Regions from separate parts of the Homo sapiens genome. Here region 1 is linked to region 2. The links come from fine-mapping of genetic effects on gene expression. A gene starts in region 2. The other region holds a variant in brackets. All regions are shown on one strand. Distances are between the middles of the regions.

What was found. PIP is the estimated chance that this variant, and not a neighbour inherited with it, causes the effect.
Region 1: its variant is the best candidate, but not a certain one, in a credible set for the expression of HMOX2 in blood mononuclear cells (TOPMed, PIP 0.79).

What each region holds. Positions count from the first base shown.
Region 1 is chr16:4,492,968-4,502,016 of GRCh38, forward strand. All of the region lies in intron 1 of HMOX2 (heme oxygenase 2), which reads left to right. LOC124903636 (a long non-coding RNA gene) reads right to left here and starts at 2,723. Exons shown (of 3, transcript XR_007064964.1): 1 at 2,315-2,723. RefSeq lists silencers at 920-1,109, 7,341-7,635. The variant A/AG (reference allele first, on the strand shown) is at 4,818.
Region 2 is chr16:4,472,032-4,481,080 of GRCh38, forward strand. It overlaps HMOX2 (heme oxygenase 2), which reads left to right and starts at 4,367. Exons shown (of 6, transcript NM_002134.4): 1 at 4,367-4,456. It overlaps NMRAL1 (NmrA like redox sensor 1), which reads right to left and starts at 2,594. Exons shown (of 6, transcript NM_020677.6): 1 at 2,523-2,594; 2 at 2,062-2,135. The coding sequence starts at 2,101. It overlaps LOC124903636 (a long non-coding RNA gene), which reads right to left. Exons shown (of 3, transcript XR_007064964.1): 3 at 7,233-7,530. RefSeq lists an enhancer at 4,163-4,664.

The DNA of each region.
Region 1 (9,049 bases), 21 kb after region 2:
GGGGAGAAAAAGGAAATATTAGGGGACATTTGTTAAGTTTATATTTTTTTCTTTTCTCTTCTTTTTCCTCTTTTTTTGAGACAGAGTCTCGCTCTGTGGCCCAGGCTGGAAGCTGGAATTCAGTAGTTCAGTCATAGCTCACTGCCGCCTTTACCTCCTAGGCTCAAGTGATCTTCCCACCTAAGCCTCCTAAGTGGATGTGACCACAACTGCATGCCACTCCCTCCACCCCCGTCTGCCTACCAGCTAATTCAAAAAAATTTTTTTTTGTAGAGATGGGGTCTCCCTGTGTTGCCCAGGTCAGTCTCAAACTCCTAGGCTCAAGCAATCCTCCTGCCTTGGCTTCTCAAAGTGCTGGGATTACAGACATGAGCCACTGGGCTCAGCCATTAATTTTAAATTGCAAGTGACATATTCTTTAGTTTATTAATCAGCACCATATGATGTCACAGTTTTATAACTCATTTATCTCATTTAATTCTCATACCCACCTTGTGGAATTGTTATCACTGTCCTTTACAGATGAAGAAAGAAACTCCAAGAAATTAAGTAGCTGGCCCAAGTCCACCCAACTGGGATGGGCAGAACCAGGGTTTGCTCTTGGTTGTGCCTTTCTACAGCCTGTGCCTTAACCACATCTATGTGCTGCCTCTTGGCCTCTGTGTGGCCAGTAGATTCTCTCATGGCTAGGCTCATCTTAATTAACATTTGTTGGGTGCCTACTATGGCTCAGGCTCTAGAGATCATTGTAAAATCCAGTCCACTGCCCCAGCTCCTCGTGTGTCTTTTGAACACATTAGTATTGTGCTGTGCAGAAAGGACTTCTGTGCATATGCCTGCTATTACACTTGTTGAACCCAATTTCTACAAACTTTCATTCAGATGGAGGGATTCAGTCTTCTTATCATATAATACATACAGAAATACAAATATTTAAATATTTATCTAAATTAATAGTCACATATGCCATTTATACAGTTAGTGAGTTACAGCCAAGTGACAGTTGTGATGGGAGGCTGTGTCTGGGGAGTTACATACTGGTGAGGAAACTAGAAAACATGGCTGTCGGGCCGGCACTGTGGCTCACGCCTGTAATCCCAGCACTTTGGGAGGCCGAGGCGGGTGGATCACGAGGTCAGGAGATCGAGACCATCCTGGCTAACACGGTGAAACCCCGTATCTACTAAAAATACAAAAAATTAGCGGGGCGTGGTGGTGGGCGCCTGTAGTCTCAGCTACTCAGGAGGCTGAGGCAGGAGAATGGCATGAACCCGGGAGGTGGAGCTTGCAGTGAGCCGAGATAGCACCACTGCACTCCAGTCTGGGCGACAGAGTGAGACTCTGCCACAAAAAAAAAAAAAAAGAAAACAAGGCTATGAAAATTTAACACATTGACTGGGCAGGGTAATGCATGGTGATCTGTTTTCTCTTCGCTCCAATCCTGAAAGGTTTCTTTGAAGAGCTGGAGTGTCTAGAAAGCTTTCCTAGAAAGCTAGTGTACATTTTGCTAAGTAATCACTGTGTCACTTAGATTTTCTGCTCTTTAAGTGTGGTTATGAGATGTGTTCCAAACAATTTGTTACTAACCATGAAGTTGATGAATGCTTTGCCTTTAAAAAAATAAGTTTGGGTGGGGTGCAGTGGCTCATGCTTGTATTCCCAGCATTTTGGGAGGCTGAGGCAGGCAGATCGCTTGAGTCCAGGAGTTTGAGACCAGCCTGGACAACATGGTGAAACCCTGTCTTTACTAAAAATACAAAAATTAGCCAGGTGTGGTGGCGTGTGCCTGTAGTCCCAGCTGCTTTGGGGGCTGAAGCAGGAGGATCACTTGAGCCTGGGAAATCCAGGCTGCAGTGAGCTATGATCACACCACTGCACTCCAGCCTGCGTGAAAAAGTGAGACTGTCTAAAAAAAAAAAGTTTGGCCAGGCATGGTGGTTCATACCTGTAATCACAGCACTTTGGGAGGCCAAAGTGGGAGGATTGTTGAGGCTAGGAGGTCAAGACCAGTCTCGGTTTGATTGGGTTAAACATTATCCCTGTAAGTTGGCTCTCATTCTGAGAAGTTGTTTAGAGTAGAAGAGAGGGCTGCATTTACAGCTAATTGCTAGTAATTTCACATCATCTGCAATATATTTTCTGGACACTCTGCCCGACTAGTCCTATGGGACGTTGTCATTCATGTGCAAATCAGGCCCTATATACTAAGGGAGGAAAACAGTTGAGGACCTCCTTTTTTTAGGCACTCTTGGTGCCTTGTGCATTAAGATAGTGAGTCAGAGGATAAGAAGGAAGCAGATTCCATTCCCCTTACCACTCTTTGGGTGTAGGCAGGGCCTGCTGGTAGTGCTGGGAAAGCCGACCATCCTTCTTTGAGCAAGTCCAATAGCTGCTGCTGCTAGTTCTGTCCCACCATAGGCACAGTCTATGTAGGATGAGCCAACCATATGTGGAGTTACTGGTTCTTGGTCTGGGCTTGTTCCTTTCCCCAATTTCAGTCCCCACCAGAATCTGGGCAGTCATTGTGAAGAAGCCTAGGAATAATACCTTACTCTATAGGCCTGTGGAAACGTGTAAAGATACCTTGCAGGCCCAGAGTGAGAAATTGGAGCCACCTTGTTCGATTGACCAAAGGCTTGTCCTATGGAGTTACTAATTTTACAGGAAGTTTATGTTAACATACTTTCTATCCATTGCACTACCATTTCTGAGGCACAATATATTTCAGTAGGCAGAAAGATAGAACTGCTTAGATTTTAAATACTCAATACATGCTTGACACAGTTTAGTCTATTTCTCTTCAGTTACTATGGCAGTGGGTGCTATAGAGATGTGCAGACCCTATTGTGACCTCCCTTTGGTATAGGGATGCTCTGGAGCCCCTGGCTTCATTGTCCACTAAGGTCTGGCAGGTCTGATTGCCTCTTTTCAGGCACTGAGTGGTGGGGTATGCCATCCTCCCCTGCTGGAACCAGCCTTGGCCTGCCCTGTTAGTCATCAAAAATAGATCTCACCAGGGAACAATCTTCTCAGGTTGTTGTGTAATTTGAGTGAGCCAAGGTGAGTGTTTTAGGGACAAGCAGCATCAACTTCGGAATCTTCAACTGGGCCTGAGCACTTATTTCTCAGAAATAATAGAATCTTGCTCACTTTTCTTTCTTTTTTTTTTTTTTTTTAGATGGAGTCTCGCTCTGTTGCCCAGGCTGGAGTGCAGTGGATCAGTCTAGCTCATTGCAGCCTCCACCTCCTGGGTTCAAGAGATTCTCCTGCCTCAGCCTCCTGTGTAGCTGGGATTACAGGTGTGCGCCACCACGCCTGGCTAATAATTCTATTTTTAGTAGAGTTGGGGTCTCACCATGTTGGCCAGGCTGCTCTCGAACTCCTGACCTCAAGTGATCTGCCCGCCTCGGCCTCCCAAAGAGCTGGGATTATAGGTGTGAGTCACCATGCCTGGCCTCTTGCTCACTTTTCATACTAAAACAACAAATTACAGGCTGTAGTTTAACCTCTCTACTGCATGCATAAATGCAGTGTGGTACGAGTGCCTCTGTAGCCCATAACTTCAGTTTCCTTGTTGCTAGCAGTCTGTGGTGACACTATACTAATCTCACATGCAGGAACCAATGAGGATTAGCCAGGGACACAGGAGGAGTCACCTTGCATTCAGAATGACTCAAGTTTAGTCTCAACTTGACCATTAGCTCTCTGAGTGATCTTGCCCATGTTAATTCTCTTGATCTTAGTTTCTTCAGAGCCAGTGAGACATTGCTTGAAAGTGACTTAGCCTGGTATACCCAGGTCTGTCAGACTTATAGTCTGGTGCTCTCTTGGGTGAACTTGAGGGCCTTCTGCCAAGGCAGGAATGGCTTCTTTTAAAAAAAAATTATTTTATTATTATTTTTTTTTTTGTAGAGACGGGGGGTCTCACTATGTTTCCTAGGCTGGTCTCAAACTCCTGGACTCAAGTGATCCTTCAGCCTCGGCCTCCCAAAGTACAGAGATTATAGGTGTGAGCTACCAGTACCAGCCTCCAGGAATGGCTTCTAAGGCTTCAGGCTGTTTATAGAGAGGAAAGCACCTGGGAGCTGATGGCACTCTCAGGTTTCCCAAAATGACAGTTCTGCATATGCATCTTAATCACCTACTTTTTTTCCCTCCACCCCCAAATGCTATTCACAGTCCTTGTTTATGATAGAAGCTGAAGCTTACAGGTGACAATTTTTGTGCCTGTATGAAAGGAAACATGACTGACTCCACTTATCCACACGACACCTGCTTTCAAGGTTGTTCAGTGTTGGAATAATTTTTGCTTGATGGTAACCTAGGGATGACCCAAGGTTTCATTAGTTAAAGCCAGCCCTGTGGGATGCATGAAGTCTAGCCTCTGTCCCTGTAAAAATCCCACCAGAACCATTTTAGAATTCACTCAGGACTTCACCCCTCCCGCTCCTGGTGCTGCTTATGGAACTAAAGAATCCTCATCTTCTCAGCCCTGGGACACATTGTCCTCATATAAAGCGAGGTGGCAATCAGGGAACAGGGGCGAGTCTTGTGCTTATTTCAGTTATAATAGGAAGGCTCTACCAGGACTCATCATTGTCCCAACAATAGTCGATTCCAGGCCCCTTCTTTGAACTCATTTCAGTGTCTCAGGTTCTGTCCTTGGTGTCTGTCTTCACTGCTTGCTCAGTTGTATTTGAACATGGCTAGAGATGAGCACACTTCTCTTCTCCAGTAAAAAAGCCTGCAAGAAAAGTCTTGGACTTCTTGAACTGCTATTCAGTTGTCTTTTTTATTCAATGTATTTTTTGAGATGG[A/AG]GGGGGTCTCACTTTGTTGCCCAGGATGGTGTTGAACTCCTGGCCACAAGTGATCCTTCTGCCTCAGAGTTCCAAAGTGCAGAGATTACAGGCTTGAGCTACCACAACCGGTCTCTTGTCAGTTTTTGAGGTTACTTAAGAGGTTAATGCCTTTAAATTAGTTTGCAGTTGTTTTGCTTTTGCCTGCCTTCTTGCCCAAATGCGCAAGTGCTTATTTAGTAATCTGACTCAAGTGCTTTGTGTCCCCAGAGTCCCCACTTTTCCAGGATTCATTGTCTTTTTTTTTTTTTTTTTTTTTTTGAGACACAGTCTTGCTCTGTTGTGCAGGCTGGAGCGCAGTGGCACTGTCGGCTCACTGCAACCTCCACCTCCTAGGTTCCAGAAATTCTCGTGCCTCAGCCTCCCAAGTATTTGGGATTAGAGTCACACACCACCACACCTGGCTAATTTTTTTATATTTTTAGTAGAGATGGGGTTTTGCCATGTTGGCCAGGCTGGTCTTGAATGCCTGACCTCAGGTGATCTACCCGCTCGGCCTCCCAAAGTGCTGGGATTACAGACATGAGCCACCACACCCGGCTGGATTCAGTCTTAACTTGCTCTTTTTTTTTTTTTGCATCTCACTCCCTTGCCAGGCTGGAGTGCAACGGTGTGATCATAGTTCACTGCATCCTTGAACTCCTGGGGTCAAAAGATCCTCTTGCCCCAGTTTCCCGAGTGGTTGGGACTACAGGTGTGTGTCACCACGCCTGGCTAATTATTTTATTTTTCGTAGAGACAAGGTCTGACTGTGTTGCCCAGGCTAGTCTTGAGCTCCTAGGCTTAGGTGATCCTCCCACCTTGGCCTCCCAAAGTGTCAGGATTATAGGTGTGAGCCACTGCACCCAGCCTGGATTTGCTCTTTTATCAAGAGGTTAATATTTATTCTTCCGTTCAGTGAACCGTGGGATTGAATTCCCCCAGCGATTGAAATGAAAGGGCTTATGTATAACATTTCCTGAGGAATGGTAGTACCAGAGTTCAGAGGAGACCTCAGGCCATTTATTCTATAAACTCAGAAGCTGTAGTTCTAGATGATGTGGCTTCTTCAGGGTGTTGAGAAGTCTCTGTTATCTCGTGCCTTGTTGGATTAGAACTGATTGAGCTCTGTCTGCTGCCCCAAACATGTGGCTCAGCCAATCTCCAGTGGCATCTGCAATGTGGGTATTCTAGCCTCCAGTGCTCACGTGGCTCACCTTAGAAAGGGCAGATATTCCTATTTCCTGACGCTGCTGGAGAATGAGGTCTGAGTCAGAAGTCCTCAGGTGTGACCTGCCCAGAACTATCTGAAATTGCTGGATTTCTTGTTCTTCCTCAGTGTTTAACAATCACCCAATTGCTCATTCTCACCAGCGACTTCCTCAGTAAGAGCTCAATATTTGAGGTGGTGCTGCATTTTGTCAAACATTCATGCGTGTTAGCCCACTTAGTCTTCGCAGCACACAGTGGATTAATGGATTTTTAAAAGCTGGTATTTATGCACGATGGAATACTACTCAACCATAAACAAGAAGGAAATTCTGTCATTTGTGACTACATGGATGCATCTAGAGGACATTATGCTAAGTGAAGTAAGCCAAAGAAAGAAAGACAAATGGTGCATGATATCACTTATATGTGAAATCTGAAAAAGTCAGTTATAGAAGGAGAGTGTAACATGTTGGTTACCAGCGGCTGGGGGAAGGGAAGGGTGGGTGTGGAAAGGGGAGATGTTGATCAAAGGGTACAAAATTTCAGTTAGGAGAAATAAGGTCTGATGATCTGCCTTACAGCATGGTGACTATAGTTAATATGGTTAATATTATAATAGTATTGTATACTTCAAAATTGGTAAAAGAGTGGATTTTAAAAGTTGTCACCACAAAGAAATGATAAGCATGTGAGCTGATGGATATGTTAATAACCCTGATTTAATTATTCCCCAATGTATACATGTGTCCAAACATCACACTGTACCCCATAAATATAATTGTCAGTTAAAAACTTAGGAGTCAAGTCAGATCTGAAGAGAAGTCAAAACAGATTTCATACAGTTAATTTAGAGACATGGGACCCAATTAAAAATTTGTATTACTTTACTTGGTATTTTAGAATTTAGCTGTTATTTTCTTGTTACACACACAGGCACAGGCACACAAATCCTCTATTTAACTGGCTTTCTCAGTAGGAACTCCATCTGTGTATTTGCAACAGCTGTAACTCAGGTTGGATGCTCCCCAGGGTGCTGGCCTATAAGTCATATTGGACCCTGATCTGAATCTGAGGGAATCTGGATCTCTCTTGTAGGAAGCTTTTGGTTTAACTGGGAAGACAGGATGACAGTCAGTTGTGGAAGCTGAAGCGTAATCACCTCATATTAATATGGTGGCAATTTTATATCGGAGTGAGCTCTGAGCTGCAAACAGCCTTCTAGGAAGCAGGCAGGGGACCCCCATCCAGGGTGATGGTAAGAATCCTGATGCCCAACTGCAAGGTGTTCAGCAGGGAGGGAGCACTCGTGGAGTCCCAGTGCAGAAGTCTCTGAGCAGCCACTTAGCCTCCCTGTGTTTGTGGGGTAACAACCCGAGTTCATGTTGTGGGCATCTCATGCAGTGTAGTAGCTGGTCACTGTCAAGTGTCACTATTTCATTGAGTCAGAAGCCTGCAGAATTGTTCTCATTCCAGGGAGTGAGTCAGTCTGCTGTTGCTTACTCTCGGTGCTGGCTGAGCTCAGCAACCTGCTCTCTTCCTTCAGTTCAGGTTTCTCCAGGGCAAAGAAGTCTTTATTGTTCCTTTCTGTATGACCAGATGGGAAATGAATTATAATATAGTCCTTAGATTATATTCCCACCTGGTAGCAATGCACTGAGTTACCTGACCTGAAATTTGTTGGACTTAGTCTCCATGGAGGAGGATTTACCATCTTCGTTGTCTCAGAAGTCCTGGTAGTGCCTCATGCCAGCAATTTAGCAGGAGCAAAAGCTTTGAGACAGTGTTCTGGATCTGCTGAGCTGGTCTAAAGGAACCTCTTTTGCTTGAAGTAACTGTGATAGGAACTTTGTTACTGCTTCTGTTAGCTCAGGTGTTGGAATGAGAATCAGCAGCTGATGAGGTGAACAGCTAGGAGTACTGGAATTATGGAGTAGTGGAGGTAGATTTTATAAACAGAGGGTCCCAGTTTTTTGGAAATGGGAAAGAGAGAGGGTAGACTGGCCTTTCTAGAATTTGTAACAGAAAAGAGGACCCAGGAGCTTCCATTGACTAGTTAGTTAATGCAGTGCGGGATCTTAGCTGGTTTGCTTGGTCCAATTCCTGTCTCTCGGTTTCTTTTTTCCCTTCCCTTCGCTGCCTTCCCCTCCCTCTTCCCTTTTTCTTTCCAAGAGAATTGAGTCACTCCATATAAAAGAAGCAGCCAGTTGGCTAAAAAGTCCAACAAAAAACAAGTATTTATAGCTCTCCAAATTTCCCACTTGTCATTATCAGTATACTTTTGCACACAGTTATAGTCGGTGTTTGGGATCCTTTTTAAAAAAATAAAAAGTTTCTGTAGGCTTTTCCATGCATGAACACAGCTTATCAACTTGCCCCGGCTGTGCCAGGATTCCATTGTTGACTGTTGTTTGAGCAGTCATGCCCTTTGTTCTTAGGCTGTGTGTTGTTTTTTTCCTAACATCATAGTATGGCTGGGTATTATTTTGATACAGATTACAATTACTATTACTATTTCTTGAAGTGTATTTCCCAGAGTGGAATATTTTAGGATCTTTTTTTCTCTTTTGTGGGGGTGGGGAACATGTAGCTTCTTGTGGATATTAGACATTGAAGTCTAAAAAGGTTCTATATTTATGATTTGGCCCTCAATTTTCTAGAGATTCCAATGGTTCCTGCAAAGAAAAGAGCATTCAAGTATAGAAACCAGCCAGACTAAGTCTGGACATGTAGCTTTTCAGAAAGTGAAAAAAAATTATGTTTCTGCAGTTGCAAGGTGGCCTCTGAATGCCACACTGTGTGGCCACTCCCTTGGACAGTGGCTAGGCCACAGGGTCGCCTCCCCTGGCCCCAGTCTGTGGGTTGAATATGCTAACCGAGCCTTCCCAGGAGCCTCCTCTGCCCCCAGCCCCCAGGTCTGTACAGATGGTAGTTGGTACTTTCAGCCCGCCTTGAGAACTCAGTATTCTTCCTGTTAGCTTTCCTTCAAAGTAAAATCGGTAGAA
Region 2 (9,049 bases):
GCCACTGCACTCCAGCCTGGGCAACAGAGCAAGACCCTGACTCAGAAAAAAGTGTACACCAATGTTCCATGGCAGCATTATTCATAATAGCCAAAAAGTGGAAATAAATCAAGTATCCATCCACTGACGAATGGACAAACAGAATATAGTCTATCCATACGGTGGAATATTACTCAGCCATAAAAATAAGTAAAGCTGTCAGGAGTTCGAGACCAGCCTGACCAACATGGTGAAACCCCGTCTCTACTAAAAAATACAAAATTAGCTGGGTGTGGTGGTGCACACCTGTAATCCCAGCTACTTGGGAGGCTGAGGCAGGAGAATTGCTTGAACCCGGGAGGCAGAGGTTGCAGCGAGCAGAGATCACACCATTGCACTCCAGCCTGGGCAACAAGAGAGAAACTCTGTCTTAAAAATAAAAAAGTAAAGTTGGCCGGGCGCGGTGGCTCAAGCCTCTAATCCCAGCACTTTAGGAAGCTGAAGTGGGCAGATCACCTGAGGTCAGGAGTTTGAGACCAGCCTGGCCACATGGCAAAACCCCATCTCTATTAAAAATACAAAAATTAGCCAGGCATGGTGGCTCACGCCTGTAGTCCCTGCTACTCAGGAGGGTGAGACAGGAGAATCGCTTGAACCCGAGTGGCAGAAGTTGCAGTGAGCAGAGATCACGCCACTGCACTGCTGCCTGGGCAACAGAGCGGGACTCTGTCTCAAAAAAAAAAAAAAAAAGAGTAAAGCCCGGACACACACTACAACATGAACAAACCTTGAAAACATGCTAACTGAAGAAGCCAGAGAGAAAAGGCTACATATTATGATTTTATTCATATGAAATGTCCCGAATAGACAAATCCATAGAAACCAAAAGTAGATTGGAGCTTTCTAGGGGTTGGCTGGGAGGAGTAAGAATGGGGAGTAACTGTTCACGGGTTCATGGAGTTCTTTTTTTTTTTTTTTTTTTTGAGATCAGGTCTCACTCTGTTGCCCAGGCTGGAGTGCAGTGGCACAATCAGGTCACTGCAGCCTTGACCTGCTGGACTCAGGTGATCCTCCCACCTCAACCTCCTAGGTAGCTATAGGTGCATGACACCACGCCCCACTAATTTTTGTATTTTTTTGTAGAGACGAGATTTTGCCCTGTTGTTCAGGCTGGTCTCAAACACCTCAGCTCAAGCGATCTGCCCATTTGGTCCAACTAAAGTGCTGGGATTACAGGGTTGAGCCACTGCACCTGGGCCAGAGTTTCTTTTTGGAGTGATGGAAATTTTCTAAAATTGATTGTGGTGATGGTTGTACAATTCTATGAATACACTAGAAACCAGTGAGTTGCACACTTTAAACAGGTAGATTGTATAGTACGTGAATTATATCTCAATAAAGCTGTTAGAGATATTAAATATGTATAAATAAGAAAAAATAGGAATGAAATAATATGCTATCATTTGAAAAAATGATAACATGTTATCTACTCTGGCAGGATATTCAAGAAACTTGGTAACAGCAATAGATGAGGTGGAAGAGGAGGCTAGGAAGAAGATTTAATTTTGGTATCATGTTCAAGTACTCCTATTCAAATAAGTTAAGTAACTCATTTTTTTTTAATTTGGAAAGCAGGTCTGGCGTGGTGGTTCATGCCTGTAATACCTGCACTTTGGGAGGCCGAGGCGGGTCATCACCTGAGGTCAGGAGTTTGAGACCAGCCTGACCAATATGATGAAACCCCGTCTCTACTAAAAATACAAAAATTAGCCGGGCGTGGTGGCATGCCCTTGTAATCCCAGCTACTCGGGAGGCTGAGACAGGAGAATCGCTTCAACCCGGGAGGCAAAGGTTGCAATGAGCCGAGATCGTGCCATCGCACTGCAGCCTGGGTGACAGAGCAAAACTCCGTCCAAAAAAAAAAAAATTGGAAAGCAATTTGGGCCTCGTTCCTGCGACCACAGCCCCAACCTGGGTCGGGGGTCCCAGTGACCTTACCCCTCCCTGCAGACCCCAGGACGGGCGGTCTTCAGGGCTAGGCGCCCTGGCTCTGCAAGGGCCCCAGTCTGGGGTTTGGCTCACCTGTGCCTCCGAAAACCACCACCAGTTTCTTGTCCACCATGAGGACGAGAATGGGACGAATCCGGTCCAGAGATCTGGGGGTAATGGGAGGCGTGGAGTTGGGGGTGGGGCCGGGGTTCCCGCCAGGAGCGACAAAGGACACCCCCATTGTCTATGCATCGAGTATGTGTCGAAGGGGGCGGCTGGGCCCGGAGCGGCAAGACGCCTGTCCCGAGATATCGGGGTCCCGCGACCCACCTCGTGTCCCTTGGGCCCGATCCCCTCCTCCTTCCCGCCTCCCCCGGTTCCAGTCACCCGCCCCCCGGCCCGGGTCCCACCGGCTGGAGTGACCTCCTCGCCGCGGCCTGGGCGGGACAAGTTCCAGGAGCCCGGGACCCCGATTCTGCGGCCGAGTCCACTGCAGAGGCGGGGATGGAGCTGCGCGCTAGGCGCCAACTCCCTCCCCGCAGCTCCGGCCCCACCTGGCAGAGCGCCGCTCACGGAAGCCCAGCGTCGGAGGACCCCTGGCTGCAGCCGCCAATCCCGACGTGTCGGCCGAAACCCCTCCTCCGGCGCAGTTGGCTCCTCCTGGATCCCGCGGGACTCGGCGTCGTTTCCGGGTTTGCCCGCCCCAGGCACGTGCACAGTGAGTTTGTGTAAATCCAGTTAGACCAAAATGAGCGAGGTGGAGAGCCTCTTAACCGGATGCTACGGGTGATGACTGGGAGGAGGAGAAAAATTACCTCTTTATCTTGCATGAACATCTTAATTTTCAGGTATTGGGCGTCAGGCAAAGATAATTAAAGCTATGTCCATGAGTCTTATCCCTTGAGGCCTTGTCCGCTTGATATTTTCTTTGCCTAACTCACTTTTAAAATTTTATTATTTTTATTTTTTTGAGACAGTGTCTTGGTCCGTCGCCCAGGCTGGTGTGCAGTGGCGCGATCTCGGCTTACTGCAACCTCCGCCCCCCGGGTTCAAGAGATTCTCCTGCCTCAGCCTCCCGAGTAGCTGGGATTACAAGCATGTGCCACCAAGCCCGGCTAATTTTTGTATTTTTTAGTAGAGACGGGGTTTCACCAGGTTGACCAGGCAGGTCTCGAACTCCTGACTTAAAGTGATCCACCCACCTCAGCCTCCCAAAGTGCTGGGAGTACAGGTGGGAGCCACCGTGCCCAGCCCTAACTCACTTCTGAAGTTGCTGCTACTTGCACTGATTTCAGTTTTTTTTTGTTTTTGTTTTTTGTTTTCAAGGTGGAGTCTTGCTCTGTGGCCCAGGCTGGAGTGCAGTGGTGGTGCGATCTTGGCTCACTGCAACTTCCGCCTCTTGGGTTCAAGTGATTCTCCTGCCTCAGTTTCCTGAGTAGCTGGGATTACAGGCAGGAGCCACCATGCCCGGCTAAAATTTTTTTGTATTTTTGGTAGAGACGGGGTTTCAACATGCTGGCCAGGCTGGTCTCGAACTGCTGACCTCAAGTGATCTTCCCGCCTCAGGCTCCCAAAGTGCTGGGATTACAGACATGAGCCACCACACCCGGCCCACGATTTCAGTAATTTCTTTGTGTTCAGTAAAACTAAAAAATGACTCTGGGCTGGGTGCGGTGGCCTGTAATTGCAGTGATTTGGGAGGCCGAGGCGGGTGGATCACCTGAGCTCAGGAGTTCGAGACCAGCCTGGCCAACATGGTGAAACCCCCGTCTCTACTAAAAATACAAAAATTAGCCGGGCGTGGTGGCAGGCGCTTGTAATCCCAGCTATTCGGGAGGTTAAGGCAGGAGAATCGCTTGAACCCGGGAGAAGGGGGTTGCAGTGAGCCGAGATCACGTCATTGCACTCCAGCCTGGGCGACGAGCAAAACTCGGTCTCAAAAAAAGAAAAATCATTCTGTCATTCTGGCCGCTGTTTGAAGAATGCGAATAATGCAACAGGGAGATCAGATACAAGACTGGTAACCGAGGTGTCAGAGTTGAGACTCAGTTTCGCAGATTGCATTGGCAAGTGACCAAGTGGGTGGTGCCACGGTTGACAACCCTATTTCTTACATCACTGAGTGGATGTACAAGGATTAAACCACACTGGGGAAGAAAAGTGCTCAACCCTGAGGCACCCTCACACACCTCGGCTCTTGTGAACACTAGTGTTCCTGCCGAAGCACGCCTACTTACCCCGCTGAGCAGAGCCTGAGCCTGCAACCTCCAGAGACCTGGGGAAAGCCACATACTCCGCTTCCCGCCCCCGGCAAGGGCGTGTCAGCTACAAGGGGCGTGTCATCTCTAGGCCCCGCCCCGCGCTGCGTGCCCACGTTGCGCCGGCCTCGCGCCAGTCCGCTGGGCTGCAGGGACTGCGGCGCCTGAGGGAGTCGCTGACGGGCACGCTGACTGGAGGCTGGCGGACAGGCGACAGCGACCTGCGGCAGGTGAGCTGTCCGCGCCCTCCCGGGGCCTTCCTTCCGCCCGGCTTCTCGGACCGCGCTGCGTCCTTCGCGGGCCCTGCCTCGGTCCAGGCCTTCGGACCTGGGCTTGGCCGGGCCACAGCCCTTTGGGTCCCCTGCGCCGGTCTGAGGGGAGACCCGGCCGGGGGCGGCCGGAAGCTGGGTGAGGCCGGGCAGAAGGACGAAGAAGGGCGTGGAGGGGCTGTCAGGGGAGGGCGAAACCGCGGACGCCGCTCTCCAGAAGTCGTCTCCCCGGGGGCGCGGGGAGGCCTGAATGGCTCTCTTTGGCGTCCCCGTTGGGCCCACCCTCTCCCAGCGTCACGGCTATGCTGGGCGAGGTGACCCCCGGGGTCGTAGCTGGGGGCGTCGGCGGTGCAGACAGGGGATGCCGGCAGAGATTGGAGCCCGGCTTGGCTGTTTCCCGGGCTGTTGGCATTGACCGGGGCTCTGCCCTTCCTCTAATGCCCTTATCTCTATAGGAAGTGCCCCTTGAGTGGGTGTCGTGACTTCACGAGTGAACCCTGGTACGCCCTGGAGCAGAGTCGGACTGGGAGGGATCAAGTGTGGGGGCAGCCGGTTAGTCCGGACGCGGGTTTACCTATTACTTTCTGAGCGCAGTGCTCTGGGTGGATTAATTGCCCTGCAAAAGCTGCCGGGACCTCCTTGCAGTCTTTGCACGAGGCCTGCCTGTGTCATGCCATTTAAATCGCGTCTGGGCCGGGTCGGTGGCTCACGCCTGTAATTCCAGCACTTTGGGAGGCCAGGGCGGGCGGATTGCTTGAGGTCAGGAGTCCGAGACCAGCCTGGCCAACATAGTGAAACCCCGTCTCTACTAAAAATACAAAAATCAGCCGGGCATGGTAACGTGAGCCTGTAGCTCCAGCTACTTAGGAGGCTGAGGCAGGAGAATCGCTTGAACCCGGGAGGCAGAGGTTGCAGTGAGCCGAGATCACGCCATTGCACTCCAGCCTGGGCGACAGAGCAAGACTCCATCTAAAAAAAAAAAAAAAAAAAAAAAAAATCGCTTCTGATGAGCCGGTTGTCGTGGCCTGTGGCTGTCCATCCTTACGTACTGTGTTTTGTTGATGGCGCTACAAACCAGACAAGGTGGAGTGTGATTGAAGAAAGAAACGCTGGCCGGTGCAGTGGCTCACTCCTGTAATCCCAGCACTTTGGGAGGCCGAGGCAGGCGGATCACCTGAGGTCAGGAGTTCGAGATCAGCCTGGCCAACATGGTGAAACCCCGTCTCTACTAAAAATACAAAAAAGTTAAACGGGCGGGGTGGCGCGTGTCTGTAATCCCAGCTACTGGGGAGTTTGAGGTTGGAGGATCACTTGAGCCCACGAAGTGGAGATTGCAGTGAGCTGAGATCGCATCACTGCACTCCAGCCTGGGTGACAGAGTGAGACCCTGTCTCAAAAAAGAAAAAAATAAATTATCACAAGACAAAATTTGTGCTTATCAGGAGTTCACAGTTAAGACATATATAAGCTTACTTGGTGAAATTAGAAAAAGTTATCAGATAAAACATTCAGGTTTAAACACTGGTGAGGGTGTGGGAATTTGTGGAGCCTTGGAAACACACTCATTGAATGACCTCATCTACCTGGGGATGTGAAGAGGGAAATCCTGTGATTCCTCCATTGTCTGACTTGATTTCCTTTTTTCCTTGGCTGTGGCAACATGTTGAAGTGCTGTGAGTCACCAAAAGGGGGAACGTGAGCAACTCTAGAAATGCCAGTGCCAGTGAGTTACAGACAATAAAGCATTGACCGCCTTTAGCTCACCCCTCATCAAGTCTGTTGAAAACTTGTAAAATTGGACAGCTAGAGCTACCTTGATTTTTTGGTTTCCTTTTAACAGCTGACTCTCTTCACAGGACAGTTGGGCTCTACATCAGGATTGCACCCAAAACTGGAATATCACTCCTCCAGGAGGAAGATATATTTGAAAATTAGAATTGTGGGCCCGGTGCAGTGGCTCATGCTTGTGATCCCAGCACTTTGGGAGGCCGAGATGGGCGGATCACCTGAGGTCGGGAGATAGAGACCAGCCTGACCAACATGGAAAAACCCCATCTCTACTAAGAAAAAAATAATAATAATACAAAAATTAGCTGGGCATGGTGGTGTGTGCCTGTAATCCGAGCTACTTGGGAGGCCGAGGCAGGAGAATCACTTGAACCTGGGAGGCAGAGGTTGCGATGAGCCAAGATTGTGCCACTGCATTCCAGCCTGGGCAACAGGAGCAAAACTGCATCTCAAAAAAAAAAAAAAGAAAGAAAGAAAATTAGAATTGTGTATTTCACTGTAAAATTTGAAATTCAGCTTTAACTCCTTGGAAAGGAAAGAGATGAAAAACTTGACCTAGACTGGGTGCGGTGGCTCACGCCTGTAATCCCAGCACTTTGGGAGACCAAGGCGGGTGGATCACCTGAGGTCAGGAGTTCGAGACCAGCCTGGCTAACATTGTGAAACCCCGTCTCTACTAAAAATACAAAAATTAGCCTTGCAAAAAGTAGCCTGTAATCCCAGCTACTCGGGAGGCTGAGCAAGGAGAATTGCTTGAACCTGGGAGGCAGAGGTTTCAGTGAGCCAAGATCATGCCATTGCACTCCAGCCTGGGCGACAAGAGCAAAACTTCATCTCAAAGAAAAAAAAATTCTATCAGAGTGAACAATAAGTAGGATGCTAGCACATACCTGTAATCTCAGCTACTTGGGAGGCTGAGGCAGGAAGTTAATACTTGATGAGCCTAAGTTTTTGGTGTCTTTGGATGCTGCTTGTCGATCTAAGGGGTTTCCAAACGCTTCTTTTTTGGTAAAATTGGGATTATGACTAGGAATCTGTTTTTTGGAGTTTCCCAGGTGATCCTTGTTTGGGGTCCTTGTCTAAGGCACAGGCTGGAAAGAGGAGGGAGTGGACTGGCAGGGAAGATAGAGCAGTAAGCGAATAGAATACCTGGGGAAAGGGACGCCAGAAGAGTGATTGTTGTCTGGTGAACTGTGCTGTCAGTGTGTATGTCAGAAGCCAACAAAGTGGATATTCTCTTCACTCAGCTTAGGGAAAAAATTAATTTTTGTTTCACAGATAGATTCGTTTCCTTCCCAGGAGTATTATAGGCCTAATTACTGTCATAGTTCTCAGTAACTTTAAAAAGGCTGTGGGGAAGAATGGCATAACAGACTAGTATCTTGTACCCAGCCTGCCTTTTTCTTATTCTATTTTTTTTTTTTTTTTTTTTTTTTTTTTTTTTGAGACAGTCTTGCTCTGTCACCCAGGCTGGAGTGTGGTGGCACAATCTCAGCTCACTGCAACCTCCGCCTCCTGGGTTCAAGCGATTCTCCAGCCTCAGTCTCCTGAGTAGCTGGGATTACAGGCGTATGCCACCATGCCTGGCTAATTTTTGTATTTTTAGTAGAGATGAGGTTTCACTATGTTGGCCGGGCTGGTCTCCTACTCCTGACCTCAGGTGATCCGTCCACCTTGGCCTCCCAAAGTGCTGGGGTTATAGGCATGAGTCGCTGCGCCCGGCTTTTTTATTTTTTATTTTTTATTTTTTTGAAACAGAGTCTGGCTCTTTCACCCAGGCTGGAGTACAGTGATCTGATCTGAGCTCACTGCAATCTCTGCCTCTGGGGTTCAAGCAGTTCTCCTGCCTCAGCCTTCCAAGTAACTGGGACTACAGGCATGCACCACCATGCCTGGCTAATTTTTGTACTTTTGGTAGAGATGGGGTTTCGCCATGTTGGCCACGCTGGTCTCCAGCTCCTGACCTCAAGCGAACCACCCTCCTTGGCCTCCCAAAGTGCTAGTATTACAGGCGTGAGCCACAGCACCCGGCCTTTTTTTTTTTTTTTTCCTTAGAGTCTTGCTCTGTCACCAGGGCTGGAGTGCAGTGGCGCCGTCTCGGCTCACTGCAACCTCTGCCTCCTGGGTTCAAGTGATTCTCCTTCCTCAGCCTCCCTAGTAGCTGGGATTACAGGTGTGTGCCACCACACCCAGTTAATTTTTGTATTTTTAGTAGAGACGGGGTTTCACCATGCTGGCCAGGCTGGTCTCAAACTCCTGACCTCAAGTGGTCCACCCACTTTGGCCTCCCAATTAGAATTAGAGGTGGAGCGACCGTGCCCGGCTAAGGGCCTACTATTTTTTTTTTTTTTTTTTGAGACAGAGTTTCACTCTTGTCACCCAGGCTGGAGTGCAGTGGTGTGACCTTGGTTCACTGCAACTTCCACCTCCCAGGTTTAAGCGATTCTCCTGCCTCAGCCTCTGGAGAAGCTGGGATTATAGGCGTCTGCCACCACGCCTGGCTAATTTTTTGTATTTTTAGTAGAGACGGGGTTTCACCATGTTAGTCAGGCTGGTCTCAAACTTCTGATGTCAGGTGATCCACCTACCTCGGCCTCCCAAAGCATTGGGATTACAGGCGTGAGCCACCGCGCCCGGCCAGGCCTCGTATTTTTGCTTTTGCTCATGTTTTCATGTCTGAGATAGAGGGCCTACTATTAAAGCACTGTGCTGAGGCTGCAAGAAGGTACTAGTGTGATTAAAACAATCTGGTCCGGGCGCGGTGGC